Regions from separate parts of the Homo sapiens genome. Here region 2 is linked to region 1. The links come from fine-mapping of genetic effects on gene expression. Tissue or cell type: whole blood. Region 1 holds a variant in brackets; the other region holds the start of a gene. All regions are shown on one strand. Distances are between the middles of the regions.

Region 1 (8,103 bases):
TTCTTTCTATTGTGAATATTTATTTGGGGGAAAAAAAACTTCAAAATTGAGGATCTCTGTAATTTAAATCCTACTTAACAAAGTAAATGCATGAACAGGTTGTCTAAACATCTTATTATACTTGTTCCTTGGTGGCTTCCTCCCTTTGTTTACACTGCCATATCCTATGTCCAACTCCCTATCTCTTCTCCATTGAGTCTTTGCCCTGCTGGCTTTCCTAGCAGTTGACACGGAAAAAGAGGCATTCTAGCTGCAAGTGGTGGTGTTGATTTTCTGCAGAGTCATCTCATCTTGCATAGCTGCCATGCCTGGAGCTCAACCAGATTGAGTAAAGAGAGGCAACAGGATTTCTCCTTCCCTTTGGAAGAATGCTCAGTTCTGCAGTGTACTGCACAGAGATCTGTTTATTAGGGAAAGTATCCAGCTGGTATGGAGTGGGAAAGTGTAGATTATAGCTTAAATAAAAGCTGCATTGAGAAGAGAGAATTGATTGGTGGGAAGCCAGGGTGTTTCTAGAAAAAGAGATTCTACACCCTTACAAGCATATCACTTCTCTGAGCTGGAAGCCTTTGCCCAACTAAGTTTCAGTATCATCAGCTCTCCTGGAGGCTGTCCGATTTGGCTGAGAAAAAGCTAGATGTTGATAGAGACCCTTTGCAGAAAAGCAGGCAAACAAGTATATTGGACACATAACCAATAATTTTGCTCATGAATTTGAAAAATAGAACTTTTACTGCTGATTATCTTTTTCAAGATTTGACATTACAAGATTTGACATCTTTTGGGAAAGTGTTTCCTTTTCATAAAAAAATTCAGCCTAGGGAGAGGATCAGGAAAAAATAGCTAATGAGTACTAGGCTTAATACCTGGGTGATGAAATAATCTGTACAACAAACCCCCATGACACAAGTTTACCTATGTAACAAACCTGCATATGTACCCCTGAACTTAAAAGTTAAAAAAAAATCCTCAAATTGGTTACTTTTAATGTAGATGAAGAGAAACAGAGGGTGTGTAAATAGGTGAGACAGTAATAGAAAGGATTATTTTATCACATTCATGATTTTTGTCCCTGAATGTGATAAATTCAGGAGGTGTGGCATAAATTTCTCTTAGAAGGAAAAGTTAATAAACAGCTTATGCCTGGTTGCCACAGTAATGTGACTTACAGTATTGAGGCTATAGGAATGATATGATAAAATATGGACAGAGATACCAGTCCTTGGATATTATGTCAAGTTATATTTATCTTAGCAGAACTCCCACAGTACAGTCCTTATTTGCTATAAATGTGCTGTAGTCTTCTATTTTCCTTGGACATTTGGACTCCAGCAAGGCTATTTCCTGAGGATAGCATGAAAAGAAATCAGTTACTTGGGTCTTTGGGCCAGCGTACAGTGCAAGGGAACCAGAGTAAAAGATGGAAATGAACTTACTTTAAAATGTATTATAGTCCAAAGGTTTCATTTTACACTTCAGTAAAATTAGAATATGCTTTGCATAATTACATAGAACATAATGGAAACCCTGGTAGAATTACGTCACCATAAGCCTATGAAGCATGGGCGGGGGGGAAATTGGGTCTGCAAAGAGCCCCGGAAGTCTAATATACATGGCATTTGTATTGAGTACAGAAAAGTAATTATACCAAGTGGTCTCTAGGTCTTTCAAACTGAACCTGAAGCAGCCCTAAGTGTAGCCCAAGTCCCTTTGTATGGGCTTCAGTGAGTCAGTAACCAGTGCCTTTAATTTATTTGCCAATGGATAGGTATCACTTCACATTGTCAGGTTGAACTCTCTCTGGACAGGTAGATGAAAACTAGGGACTTTATCCATCGTGTCAATGTTATTTTCATCTAACTGGACAGAGTTCCACGAAGGATTTAGATTTCTAAATTAAGAAGTGAGGTGGTCACATTTCGCTGGCTCCAGTTTAACTTCTCAGCCCCTATTGTTTGGCATCTGTCTCCTTGAAGTCCTTTGTAGTTCTTGGCTATTTCTTTGGTGCAGAAGCTTGTTTTCTAAGGTTGAGCAGAGCCTTCAGAGCCTCCCATATTTTTTTAAAACAAGCCAGCAGGGCTCTTGCCTGTACATCACCACTGACCTTTTCCTAAATGGAACTTCAGCACAGTGTCCTTGAGCTTTCCCAGTTCAACGGCCAGATTACAGATCACCTGTAATATGATAGTACTTACACAACACTTAACAATTTTCACAGTGCTTCATTTACTGGTCACATTTGATCTTCCAATTAACAAACGTTTGTCTATCCTCTTTATTGTGTGAGGTATGAGACTAGGTATTTGTACAGTCTGATCTAATTCTAGAAGGAGAGCATGATGAGCCATATCAGATAGATACTCAGAGAAGGCCAATGGAATAAGGATACAGTGGTGATAAGACAATTAGGAGAGGTCATTAGTAACATCAGCGAGAGTGATGAGGGCAGAGGCCCAAGTGCTATGGATGAGATACGTGGGAAATGAGGAAATAGAGAAAATGAGTATTTGCTTTTCTTTTTTTTTTTTTTTTTTTTTGAGATGGAATTTCACTCTTTTTGCCCAGGCTGGAGTGCAATGGTGCTATCTCGGCTCACTGCAACCTCTGCCTCTTGGGTTCAAGTGATTCTCATACCTCAGCCGCCCAAGTAGCTGGGATTACAGGCACGCACGCACCACCATACCAGGCTAATTTTTGTATTTTTAGTAAAGTTGGAGTTTCACCATGTTGGCCAGGCTGGTCTCAAACTCCTGACCTCAGGTGATCTGCCCACCTCAGCCTCCCAAAGTGCTAGGACTACAGGCATGAGCCACTGCACCCATCCAGAAAGTGAGTATTTGACTTTATTTCTATGAAGTCATGAAGGAAAGGGAGAAAGGACAGAGTCTGCAGGAGGATTTATGAGAGAGAGAGGGGTTTTCCATTTTAATATGGGAAAAACTTTGCATGTATAATTTGAGGGAAATGTACCCATTAAATATATACTACTGGGGTGGGAAGGGGTTTTCATTTTACAGATAAAGACAGAGAGGTTGGCCAGGCACAGTGGCTCATGCCTGTAATCCCAACACTTTGGGAGGCTGAAGCGGGCAGATCACAAGGTCAAGAGATGGACACCATCCTAGCCAACATGGTGAAACTCCATCTCTACTAAAAATACAAAAATTAGCTGAATGTGGTGGCGCACACCTGTAGTCCCAGCTACTCGGGAGGCTGAGGCAGGAGAATCGCTTGAACCTGGGAGGCAGAGGTTGCGGTGAGCTGAGATTGCACCACTGCACTCCAGCCTGGCGACAGAGCGAGACTGCAATCTAAAAAAAAAAAAAAAAGGAGAGGTTAGGCAGTTGGCCCTAATGTCCCCACCCACAGTAGGAAGGGCAGTCAGAACTTGAACCTAAGTCTTCTAATGCTAAATTCCATTAATGCCTCTAATTCTGAAAGAGTAAACTCTTATTATAAAATGTCTGCCCTGACCAGGCGTGGTGGCTCACGCCTGTAATCCCAGCACTTTGGGAGGCCAAGGCAGGCAGATCACGAGGTCAGGAAATTGAGACCATCCTGGCCAACATGGTGAAACCCATCTCTACTAAAAATACAAAAATTAGCTGGGTATGATGGTGCGTGCCTGTAATCCCAGCTACTCGGGAGGCTGAGGCAGAAGAATCACTTGAACCCAGGAGGTGGAGATTGCAGTGAGCCAAGATCACGTCACTGCACTCCACCTTGGCGATAGAGCGAGACTCCGTCTCAAAAAATATATATAAAATGTCTGGCCAGGCGCAGTGGCTCACGCCTGTAATCCCAGC[A/G]CTTTGGGAGGCCAAGGCAGGCAGATCACAAGGTCAGGAGATCTAGACCATCCTGGCTAACACGGTGAAACCCCGTCTCTACTAAAAATACAAAAAACAAAATTAGCCGGGCATGGTGGCATGCGCCTGTAGTCCCAGCTACTCGAGAAGCTGAGGCAGGAGAATGGCATGAACCCGGGAGGTGGAGCTTGCAGTGATCCGAGATGGTGCCACTGCACTCCAGCCTAGGTGACAGAGCAAGTCTCGTCTCAAAAATAAAATAAAATAAAATGTCTGCCTTTTCAGAAGATATGAACAGATAGCTCAAAGATAGAAAATAGATCTTAAACAATGAAAAGTTGCTCACTTTTACTTCTAAGAGAAATGCAAATTGAAACTACACTGAGACACCTATCAGACTGGCAAAAATTCAAAAGCTTAACCACAGTTTATTGGAGAGGCTGTGGGGAAAGTGGTGCTCTGATGCATTGCTGGTGGGACCACAGAATTGTTTCAGCCTCTACGGAAGGAAATTTTGCAGTGTTTAACAAAAGTGTATCCTGCCTTTGACCTAGCAAACCTGCTTCCACAAATAAGAAATATCATTCATAGGAGACTAGTTGAATAAACTATTATATCAGTACTCATGAAGTACTATGCAGATGTAGGAAAAAATAAGATCTCTATGAACTGTTACATTTAGTGGTTTTGAGGATATATAAAATGAAATATATGTAAAATGAAAGCAATTAATAAAAAATTATGTGTAGCATATTAGTAAGAATTGGTAATATGAGTAAGAAGTAGCAATAAGCATATGTTTGCTTATATTTTTTCAAAATAGAGTAAATCAGAAACTAATGAAAATGTCACCAATAGGAATTAAAGAGATAGGAGTGAGAGTGAGACCTCTTAGTTTACTTTTTTTTTTTTTTTTTTTTTTTTTGAGACGGAGTTTCGCTTCTGTTGCCCAGGCTGGAGTGCAATGGCACAATCTTGGCTCACCACAACCTCCACCTCCCAGGTTCAAGTGATTCTCCTGCCTCAGCCTCCCAAGTAGCTATGATTACAGGCATGCGTCACCACACCTGGCTAATTTTGTATTTTTAGTAGAGACGGGGTTTCTCCATGGTGGTCAGGCTGGTCTGTAACTCCCAACCTCAGGTGATCCGTCTGCCTCGGCCTCCAGAGTGTTGGGATTACAGACGTGAGCCACTGCACCCAGCCTCTAAGTTTACTTTTTAATAAGCTTTTGACTTTTAATCACATAAAAGTTTTGTATGCCCAAAATATTAAATGGGAAAGAATAGAAAAAGCACTCTAAAATTGAATACAAGCCAGGTATGGTGGCATGCACTTGTAGTCCCAGGTACTCAGGAGGCTGAGGCAGGAAGATCACTTGAGGCCAGAAGTTCAAGGCTATAGCGCACAATGATAGCACCTGTGAATAGCCACTGAGCTCCAGCCTGGGCATCATAACGAGACCCACCTCTTAAAAAAGAAAATACAGCTGGGCACAATGGCTCATGCCTGTCTGTAATCCCAGCACTTTGGGAGGCCGAGGTGGGCAGATCATGAGGTCATGAATTCGAGACCAGCCTGACCAACATGGAGAAACCCCATCTCTACTAAAAATACCAAAACTAGCTGGGTGTGGTGGTGCGCACCTGTAATCCCAGCTACTCAGGAGGCTGAGGAAGGAGAATCAGTTGAACCCAGGAGGCAGAGGTTGCGGTGAGCCGAGATTGTGCCATTGCACTCCAGCCTGGGCAACAGAGTGAAACTCTGTCTCAAAAAAAAAAAAAAAATACAGATTGTGGGGAATTCTCCAAGATAACAGATGTGGAGTCTACAAAAATGTCGATATGTCAATATTATGAAAGACCCCCTCCCACACTCCCAAAGAAAGCAGAAGATGTACTGTTCTAGATTAAAGCTAGGCTGGGTGTGGTGGTTCACTCCTGCAATCCCAAATTTTGGGAGGCCAAGGTGGGGAGGATCACTTGAGGCCAAGAGTTTGAGACCAGCCTGGGCAACATAGTGAGACCCCATCTCTAAGAAACAAAAGTAAAAAAATTAGCAAGGCATGGTGCTGCCCACCTGTAGTCTCAGCTACTCGGGAGGCTGAGGCAGGAGGATGGTTTGAGCCCAGGAGTTCAAGGCTGCAGTGTGCCACTGCACTCCAGCCTAGGCAACAGAGCAAGACTCTGTCTCTAAAAAAAAAAAAAAAAAAAAAAAACAAAGTAGCCGGGCACAGTGGCTCACACCTGTAATCCCAGCCCTTTGGGAGGCCGAGGCAGGCGGATCACCTGAGGTCAGGAGTTTGAGACCAGCCTGACCAACATGGTGAAATCTCGTCTTTACTAAATACAAAAAATTAGCTGGGCATGGTGGCAGGCACCTGTAATCCCAGCTACTCGGGTGGCTGAGGCAGGAGAATCGCTTGAACCCCAGAGGAGGAGGTTGCAGTGAGCCGAGATTGTGCCATTGCACTCCAGCCTGGGCAACAAGAGTGAAACTCCCGTCTCAAAAAGAAAAAAGAAAGTAGGCTGGGCACAGTGCCTCACGCCTGTAATCCCCGCACTTTGGGAGGCCGAGGCAGGCGGATCACTTGAGGTCAGGAGTTCAAGACCAGCCTGGGCAACATGGTGAAACCCTGTCTCTACTAAAAATACAAAAATCAGCTGGGCATGGTGATGCATGCCTATAATCCCAGCTACTCAGGAGGCTGAGGCAGGAGAGTCACTTGAACCCTGGCAGTGGAGGTTACAGTGAGTCAGGATCATACCACTGCCCTGTAGCCTGGGTGACTCTGTCTCAAAAGAAAAAAAAGTGTAGCTAGAGGATAGAGACATGACAACTAAATGTGAAGAATTATCCTTGATTGAGTAAATATAAAGGACATTTTGGGGACATTTGTAGAAATTCAAATATGTATAGTGTATCAGGTTATTGTGTTAATGTTACATTTCTTTGGTATGATCATATTATGTAAGAAAATGTTCTTAGATGATACATGCTCAAGTATTGAATAAAGTGTCATGGTGCACAAAATGCTCTCAGATGGTTCAGGGGGAAAAAGTATGATATGTACTAAAAGAAAAGGGAAAGAAGGAAAGAAAGCAAATATGGCAAAATATTAATAATTGTGTCCTCCAGATCATCAGCAGAACCTCTTCCCCCAAAGTTTGCCATTTATCCCTATCTTAAAATTTTACATATAATGTTTCCCTCATTTGTTTGACAGAAGCTGCTATTTCAGTGTCTTCTCCTGCCACACACAAGTTCTGTCCTTTAACTCCTTAGATGCAACTTAATGCACTAAAAAGAGTGTGAGCGGCCCTGCGCGGTGTCTCACACCTGTAATCCCAGCACTTTGGGAGGCTGAGGCGGGTGGATCACGAGGTCAGGAGTTTGAGACCAGCATGACCAGCATGGTGAAACCCTGCCTCTACTAAAAAATACAAAAATCAGCTGGGCATGGTGGCGCGCACCTGTAATCCCAGCTACTCAGGAGGCTGAGGCAGGAGAATTGCTGGAACCCGGGAGGCAGAGGTTGCAGTGAACCGAGATCACGCCATTGCATTCCAGCCTGGGTGATGGAGCAAGACGCTGTCTCAGAAAAAAAAGAGTGTGAGCTTTGGAATAAGGTGTAGTTCAATGCATAATAATGCTGCTTTTGTTATCTGTAAAAATTCAGCAAATGTTTATTGAGCACCTGCCAGGTGCCAGGCACTGTGCAAGGTGCGTGGGTTTCCATAGGGAAGAAAAGAGCTGGTTCCCGACCTCTAGGAGCTTATATTAAAGGTAGTTAGAAAGTAAGCACATAAATAAATATATAGGTACAAATTGTGATACATGCTGTTGAGGAAAATAGGAGATTACTATGAGCAAGAATAACAGAAGACATCTAATTTAGATTGGATGATGGTTAAAGACACCTCTCCTGCTGTATGATCATGGGCAAAAATTATTTGAATTCTATGAGTTGGTTTTTGTATCTGTAAAAATGAAGATGAAAATAACATTCTTACTCTATCATTTGTGAAAACTAAATGTGATAACATATGAAGTGCCTGGCAACTTAAAGGGCACTGGTAGATGTTATTAGTCTTCTTTTTGAAAGTTCTTCTTCTCTCGCTCCTTTTCAAGTATTGTTTGGTTGATTTGCTAATACTCCTTAACCTTGTCTTTTTGGCTCCATAGGGCTCAGAATGGAATGCCTCCAACTTAGAGGACTTACAGAACCGAGGGTAAGCACACAAAGCAATAGCTGGCACCCCTGTGTAACAGAAGTCCCTGTTTTATCTTCATTTTC
Region 2 (8,103 bases), 36 kb after region 1:
CCCAGGACTAATGGATACTGTAGTAGACATGTAGTACTATAGTACCGTAATATTCATCTCTCCTCATTTTAGTTGCCTTTCAGATTCTAAATGTTTGGGATCATTCCTATCATCTTAGTCTCTTCAGGATCTTTAGTATTTTCCTGGTTCTGAGGAGGCTTGAGACAGGGTTATGGATTTCCTTGTTCTGTGTCTTTATCCCTACTGATAGTTCCTCTTTCTCATTTTGCAAACTACCCAGAGCTCCAAGGACAGCCTGAAGATCTCAGTGCCTCAGGCTCTGAGGTACTCTGCTCACAGGCCCCAGACAGATGCTGTTGGGTAAACTCAAAGCTTCCTATGAGAAGCTTCTGAGATGTAGCAGGTCACAGAAGTGTTCACCTGTTTCATCTGAGGATTTCAGTTCTGAAGTGATCTAGGCATGTTTGGTAAAAATGTTTTTGTGAGAGTTCTTTTTTTAAGAAAGCATTATGCAAAAAGTCACTTTTAAGGGCATTTAAAAATTTTTAAGTAAAGCCATTCTTTGGCTTTTTTGGACTATTTGTGGATACTTTGTTTACATTTTGAATATTAAAATGTGCATCATCTTGTCGGCCATGCAGTCCTGCAGGCATCAGTGCCCTGGCTGTCCTGTGAGTCCTCATGCAGAGCAGGGCCATCATGGTCAGCCCTTGTGAGTAAGTGGGTATACGCTGAAGCTGACTTCCGTCTGTGTCCTGCCCTCCCATCCAGCACTCTCTATGGAAATAGTTGTCATTTCCTCAGTGATGGTGTGTCTTATAGTGATGGTTGTAATGGTGAATGGCTAGTGTCATTTTGTTTAATTTTGTTTTGCTTTTTGATGGTGGATAAGATGAAATTTTAGCTGTTTCAGCATCAATCCAACTTAAAAGCATCTTGGACTTTGTTTTCCCTTCCAAACTAAAAGATCAAGGCATGTATTAGACACAAGCATATTTGCTGCCTCAACTCCTCTGACACCCATATTAGGAAAAGGCCTGCCACCAAAGCAGGAAGCTGCACACTCCTAACCCTTCTCCCAGGGTGTGGGGTCCCTTGACGTCATGAAGAGCTATTGCAAGGTGCTTCTGTACTTTTCCAGCCTGGAAATGGAGGGTGACTGGCCCTGGCTCCTGCTATGAGAAGATAACCAGCCTCATTTTCTCAGTGCCCCAGAGGTCTAGGATAGGATTTCTAAACTGGAATCATCCTTAATCACCTTGAAGATCCCTTAAGAGGCATTTGACTGGTGCTGCCGTCTGTGTCCTCAAAGCAATGCTGGTGGCAGCGTCCTGTGTACACATGCAGAGCTAATACCCAAACTAAAAACTGGGTAACTGGCCCTGAAGTGCTTCCCAATCAGTAAGCCCACAGGGAAATGTTTGATTTTTATGTTCTGTTGGATTTTGGTTTGCTTGGCATATCTAAAGGTGCCTTTACTTTTCTTTTTTTTTTTTTTTCTTTCTGCTTTGTTTTGTAGGACTTGTTCTAACATGGAAAACAAGTCCAGAAGACTCTCCTCTGACTGTTACCTTTGCCCCAAGCCACCCCAAACTTTTATGCTCATGTTTTATTAAAGCAGGTGCTCCCTGGAATCTCTGGGACATTTTTGAGGCATTTGAAGCAGAATATAGAGTGGTCTCATCTCCTTCCTTAATCTTCCTGGTGGTTGGGATGTTCCACTTGTATCATAGATTTTTTTATTACAGATATGCTCCACTGTTTTTAAATGTGAACTTGTGCGCAAATGTGCAGATTCAATGTTCTTGTTACAGATTGAATAAATTTTTATTTTGAAGATGAAACGTGTACTTCATCAGATGCAACAAAGGAGGGAGGTGCTGGAGAAGGTGGGAGAGTCAGAAGAGGAAACACAGTGAACACCAGTAGTTTTCAATGATTGATCCCAGTCATGTCACCCTGAAGAGAGAGCTGAGTCCCCAGAAATAAATGAAACACCTCAGCCCACTGAAAAATGTCTAGAAATGGGACATGAACATCATGAGATATTTAGTGGTGCCATTCATCACATACAAGGCAGGACTACCATCTAGGGAGAGCTCAGTTTCCAGTTCCCAATTGCTAACAAAATTTGAAGTCCCCGCCCCCCTCAAAAAAAAAAATCACTGCCTTGAACTAAAGTCAGCCTGCTTCATTCTGAATCATCCATATCAAGTGGGAGGGGCACAGTGCTGGTCTTTAGCTGGAGTGCATGACGGTGAAGGTAAGGTCTTTCACAAAATATTCTAAGGATCCCTGGGATCCCTGACCAATCTAGATAAGTTCAGTCTTGGTTTTCTAGCCAAAGCAGATGGACCAAATCATGGCTAAGTTGCGAGCTACCTCATCCAGAAAATGGCTTCCTAAAAGATGAAATCCATGGCTGTCTTCTATGGATTGCCGTTCAGAGCTAACAGTTCAAAAGGGAGGCACGAAGCCCAAGTAGCTTCTCTCCCTGATTGGTTCTTCCTGCCTTAACTCTGCCCACTCACAGCTCTGTCAGGCCTTGGCAGCCAGAAGAAGGCTAGAGGGCAGGGCTGAGCTACGCCAGGCCCAAGCAAATATCTGAATCCCTGTACCCAGAAAGCACTGCTCTTCCTAGATGATGGAACTGAAGGGAGCACGCATTGAAGGATTCCTGCTTCCTAGTCCCAAGCGCTTCCCTCTAGAAGGGAGTCTCCTGTTCTCTTTAAAGAGAAGGAGGGTGGGGGTAGGGGAGATGCCACTTCAGAGGAGGCAGCACATAAAATCCCTACTCTGCTAAGGAGTGGTGCAGAGTTGGAAAGAATCTGACCCAATCCTGTTCAGAGAGCTGTAAAAATATGGCGATTGAGCCAGGACTGGAACCAGTTTTTTAATTCATTCCAGGCATCCTTTCCTCTGTGCCACACAGTATAAACTCTCAGTTACGTTTTAGCTCAGCACTTGTGAGATAAAGTGGCACTGTCCTTCAGGGAGAGACAGAAATGCATGCTGCTGAAAAGCAAGAACCAGATGCCAGACCACGTGGGTAAGAATCATAGCTACATCAACTACCAGTTGAGGTTGTGATGGGTAAGCCACCTAACCTCTTTGTGGCTCCATTTCCTCAACTGTTAAATAGGGATAACAACAGTACCCACCTTAGAGGATTGTTTTTTGGTTTTTTGTGCGTGTGTTTTATTTGAGACAGAGTCTCATTCTGTCACCCAGGCTGGAGGGCAGTGGCATGATCTCAGCTCACTGCAACCTCTGCCTCCTAGGTTCAAGCAATTCTCGTGTCTCAGCCTCCTGAGTAGCTGGGATTACAGGTGTGCATCACCACACCTGGCAAATTTTTGTATTTTTAGTAGAGATGGGGTTTTGCCATGTTGGCCAGGCTGGTCTCGAACTCCTGACCTCAGGTGATCCACCTGCCTCAGCCTCCCAAAGTGCTGGGATTACAGGCGTTAGCCACCCGCGACCAGCCTAGAGGATTGTTAAGAGTATGAAATTAATACGTATAAAGCCCTTAGTGCCAGTGCCTAGCACATAAGCATGGGTTATTGTTGTAAAGGAGCAACTGAGTCACTCAGGTATTTTCCTCCTAATCATGTGCCTGGAATCTTTAGGTAAAAGAGAGATGACTCACATACCCTCATACCCTGCCCCAGCACCCCTACGCCAGGAGTTATTTCTGGAGCACTCGTAACAGTTTTTTATTCTGTTCCCCTACAAGCCACTGACTCTTGATTTGATTCTGTCCCTACAAGCCACCTGGACTCTTCCTGAGAAACAAAGGAGCCTCGTGGGCCCTTCATGGTTTCTACCACCTTCCCTCCCTTTCCTCCCCAGTGCTGGTTCCTGCCCTTCAGAAGGCTGTGTTCCATTCACTCACTCCCAGGTGTGCCCTGGAGGGTGGGAAGTAATAACTGGCCCCAGATGCCCTTATGATCCAAGGGAAGAAATCCAGGCAATGTGCAGACACTGGGTAGACTGGAGCTACGGGACTGGCTGGTCTTCACTGGCTGTATTTTGATCAGGTTATCTTTAATCTCCTTGACCTCGGTCAACATTCAGTTCTGTGAATATTGGGGGAGACGGGGGAAGCTTACCTGGAACACAGTCGGGCGCCAATTCAAACAAGGCCCAGAAAACATTAGGAGTCTGGCCTCTGAGTTGGCTTCTCTGACCCCTAAAATGTGACTAGAGACCGGTGCTAGCCTCTTCCCCCTGCATCTGGGAGGGGAGGGAGTGTCAAGGTGGGTTCACTTTACACTCGGTCCTCCCCTTGTTCTTTCAGCTGCTTCCTGCCCTGCTCCATGGAATCTCATCTAATGGGGTGAAATGCCTAGCACACAGCCAGCATTTTAGGTTTCTCAAATGATCGCTATTGCCATTCATAACAATAACTAACATTCACAACCCTGTGTCGGGTGCCCTCTCACTTGCCCTACATCAGGATCAGCCTGGGTCCTCATTCTCTAGGGCCTCTTTCCCCCAGGGAGGCCTGGAAGTGCAGTCCCGCAGTCCCGGCCGATCGGGACAGCTAAATTGGGAGCGCGATTGAGGCTGGAATGCGGGTGGAGGCACCTGGTCTCCCTCGGCTGCCCGCTCTAGGGGCGCACGCCCCCTCGCCCGTTCCCTCTCCAAGCGTCCTGCTCTAGGTCTGCGAACCCGAGCCTCCCCAGCCTACCCGGGAGTCATGGAGGGAGGGAAGCAGCGTGCGCACCTAGCACACAGCTGCACATTTATTTTCGATGGTTCTCCGAGGCCGGCGGAAGCTGGGAGGGGAGTCGGGGTCGCTCGACTTTCCCGCCGCTGGAGGGGGCGGGGCAACTTGGGCTCTGGCCCCGCCCCTATGCTAGCCCCGCCCTCTTAGGTTGATGGCAGCGGCAGCTGGGGCTGCAGCGGCGCCGGGCTCTAGAGAGCCGCAGGATCGGCCAGAGTGCGGAGCTGGACACCCGGGTCCCAGATACTACAGACACCCGGAGAGGTGGCTCCTTCGCCCTGAAGCCTTCCTCGGCCCCCTACGCACTCGGGCCCCTTCCGCAGAGGATTCGCAGCGTGAGCGCCCCGCAGCCCGCTCAGGACCAGGTACCCAGCCCCCCACACCCGGCCGTCACCGCAGCCAGCGGAGCGGGCGGGGTCCCTGAGGGGCAGAGGTCTGCGCCTCCTCCCCCCGCGCCGCCAAATTCGGTTTCGGGCGGGGAGGACGTGGTGTCTATATTTGGCCGGACAGCAGCCAGCGCTCCCGGAGGGCGCAGACACCTCGTCTCGCAAGAACGCAGTGTCAGGGCAGCAGGCTGAAGAAGGGTGCAGGGAGGCCGGGCCTCAGGCTCGGGGCCGCAGACGCGCCTTGAAGGGCACACGGATGCTGGGGCTGGGGTGGGGCAGGAGCCACTGGCTGGGGCTTTGGGAGTGCTCAGTGTGTCCTCTAGGGAGACCCTAGCTGGAGAAAAGGCACCTCACCCTCCCCACCCCTGCAAATCTGGCTTGGCCGTGGCGGGGGCAGGGGTGGAGGATGGGGTTGAAGACCCCACCCCTAGAAGAGTTCACTAGGAAGAAGGCCCAACCAGGGCAGAGGACCCAGAGGAGAAACCGGACAAGCCTATGGTAGGCAAAAGCCAGAAGACCATGATCAGGGCTTCCTGGAGAAGCCAGTGCAGAAAGGAGTGGGAGAAGAGGGATCCACCTCACTCTGTGCTGCCACCCGTCCCCCCACAAGGCATGGGATGAAAACAGTAGCAGAAAGGACTCAGATTGGTGGACAGGAGGAACTTCCCCCTTGGCAAAATTTTAGGAAAAGGCAAAACCCCATCTGCCTGAACTATTCCAGAGATGCGAGTTCGGTATCCTGTGGTGGCTGCAGTCTTGGCCCCATACCTGGCTTTAAGCCAAGATCCAATGGTCAAGTCTTCTGCTTCTGGACAGGGTGCCTCTGGGAGCTACAACCACGTCCGTGAAGAGATGCTCATCAAGGCTGGCGGTGGTGGGGGCGGGGGGTGCAGGCAGTGTGGCATTGAGGCTCCTCCCAAAAACATTCCAACGTCCAGAAAGCTTTCAGTCTGTTAGGCTCCACAATCCCCTCAGCCTGGGTCTCTGTGGAGAATTCAGGCCCCAAATCCTAGCCACTTACATTAAACAGCATTTTACACAGCAAAATAACTTTCCCATACTTTGACCACCTTGAAGAAAGCTCCCTGCTTCTAGGACCAGACACTATATGGATTTATACCTGACTCCTGACCACATAACCCTTCTCATCAGCCACCCCTCCACTCCTCCTCCCTCCCGCAGCTCACAGGACTAAGGACCAAAGGCATTTCTGGGCACTGAGATCCTACCTCTCTGCCTGCAGCTATGAGCAGACGTGTGGTTCGGCAAAGCAAGTTCCGCCATGTGTTTGGGCAGGCAGCAAAGGCCGACCAGGCCTACGAGGACATCCGTGTGTCCAAGGTCACATGGGACAGCTCCTTCTGTGCCGTCAACCCCAAATTCCTGGCCATTATTGTGGAGGCTGGAGGCGGGGGTGCCTTCATCGTCCTGCCTCTGGCCAAGGTGAGGGATCAGGGAAAGGAAGCAAGTGGGAGGACACTAGCTGGGGCCCCTGGGAACTCCTGAGCCTTTGTTCTCACCTAGTTCCATTCCATAGTCAGGAGAAGCATCTGTGTGGATTGGCTCCTCCCTATTCCCCAAGCCCTCAAGGACCAGAGGGGAGGCCACCCCACCCCACCCTAACATCAGGGTGGCTTACTCCCACTCCCTAGCCCTCCCACCTCTCCATGCACCACCCCATTCCCAGCAGGGACCAGGAGGGGAGCCGGGTGATGGAGATGGTTGGGACACAGCACAGCCAAGCCTGGCCAGATTCCATCACTGCCTCTCCTAATGCCGCATCCCCTCATGTTTTGGGTGTGGAGAACCTCCTCCCTAGCCCAAGATGACCATTTGATTAAGTCACATCCCAGAGCAGCAAACTGAGGACAGGGTCAGGCTCTATCCAAAGAGTCCCTGGTTACCTCCAAGGACACTTGCAGTGAAGTAGAAAGAAAGGGAACGGAAAGGAAGGGGGACATGACACATAAAGCCAGAGCCCTCCCTACCCTCAGGATGGGGACCAGGCAATGACTACCACGTTAGCTTCATAACCTTAAGCCCCTTGACCATCCACATCCCAAGGATGACTCTCCCCCAACCCCCAAGGTATGACCTTGACCTGGATTCTGGCCCCTACACCTTGTTAGGGTAGGCTCCACAGGTGGCGGGGTCAGGAAGAGGCCTGAAAAAGCCAGTGACTCACCCCAGACAATGCAGACATCATCCTGGGACACAGCCCCAGGGCTCAAATTTCAGCCGGAGCTGCCTCCTCCCCCAATATGTCTGCTCTTTCAGTACCACATAGCCACCCTCTCCCCCGCTGCCTGGTCTGGACCAGTGTCTGCCCCTGCAGAGGTCTCAGAACCCCCACAAGCAGCCTGTGAAGACCAAAAAATAGATGGGCCCCCAGCTCCCATTTGGGGATAGTAGGCACCAGGACTGCTTGCTGCTTGTGGTTCCAAGGTAAAAGTGGTTCACAAGGAAGAGATCTGCCAAGGGAGGCCAGGAAAGGGCTGTCCAGCACTACACTATTATCTCACCTTGACCTCTTCCACCAGGAGATTCCCACAGACACTTCAATAGGAGAACAGGCTGAAGAACAGCCTCCTCCAAGTAGGTGTCTTTGGAAGAGCACTGGGCTGGAAAGTTCAAATCTCAGCTCTACAAGTATCTTGTTGTGTGTCCTTGATGAGGCCATCTTACCTCTCTGTGTCACAGTCCCTAATATTAAATTATTTCAACTCTGCCTTCAGTAAAGTGCAGGAAGTGGACTGGATGGGGTTAGAAGTGCAGAGAGGGATCTGCAAAGAGAAAATAGGTAATAAGGAATCGAGATGTAAGCAGATCTGCTACCCACTCCCCAAAAAACACACAGGAGAGTAGCCCCACATCTTCTTCTCCAACCCCTCAGACAGGGCGAGTGGATAAGAACTACCCACTGGTCACTGGGCACACTGCCCCTGTGCTGGATATTGACTGGTGTCCACACAATGACAACGTTATCGCCAGTGCCTCAGACGACACCACCATCATGGTAGGAGCCAG

The links. PIP is the estimated chance that this variant, and not a neighbour inherited with it, causes the effect.
Region 2: CORO6 starts here. The variant in region 1 is fine-mapped to the expression of CORO6 in whole blood (TOPMed, PIP above 0.99).

What each region holds. Positions count from the first base shown.
Region 1 is chr17:29,655,496-29,663,598 of GRCh38, reverse strand. SSH2 (slingshot protein phosphatase 2) reads left to right here. Exons shown (of 16, transcript NM_001282129.2): 12 at 7,992-8,038. Among named protein-coding and RNA genes, the nearest start is that of SSH2-AS1, 20 kb to the right of the region's middle. RefSeq lists a silencer at 74-368 and an enhancer at 74-368. The variant A/G (reference allele first, on the strand shown) is at 3,807.
Region 2 is chr17:29,619,640-29,627,742 of GRCh38, reverse strand. It overlaps CORO6 (coronin 6), which reads left to right and starts at 4,831. Exons shown (of 11, transcript NM_032854.4): 1 at 4,831-5,055; 2 at 6,259-6,519; 3 at 7,970-8,092. The coding sequence starts at 6,322. It overlaps SSH2 (slingshot protein phosphatase 2), which reads left to right. Exons shown (of 16, transcript NM_001282129.2): 16 at 1-1,805. RefSeq lists enhancers at 3,031-4,230, 7,138-7,432 and a silencer at 5,018-5,167.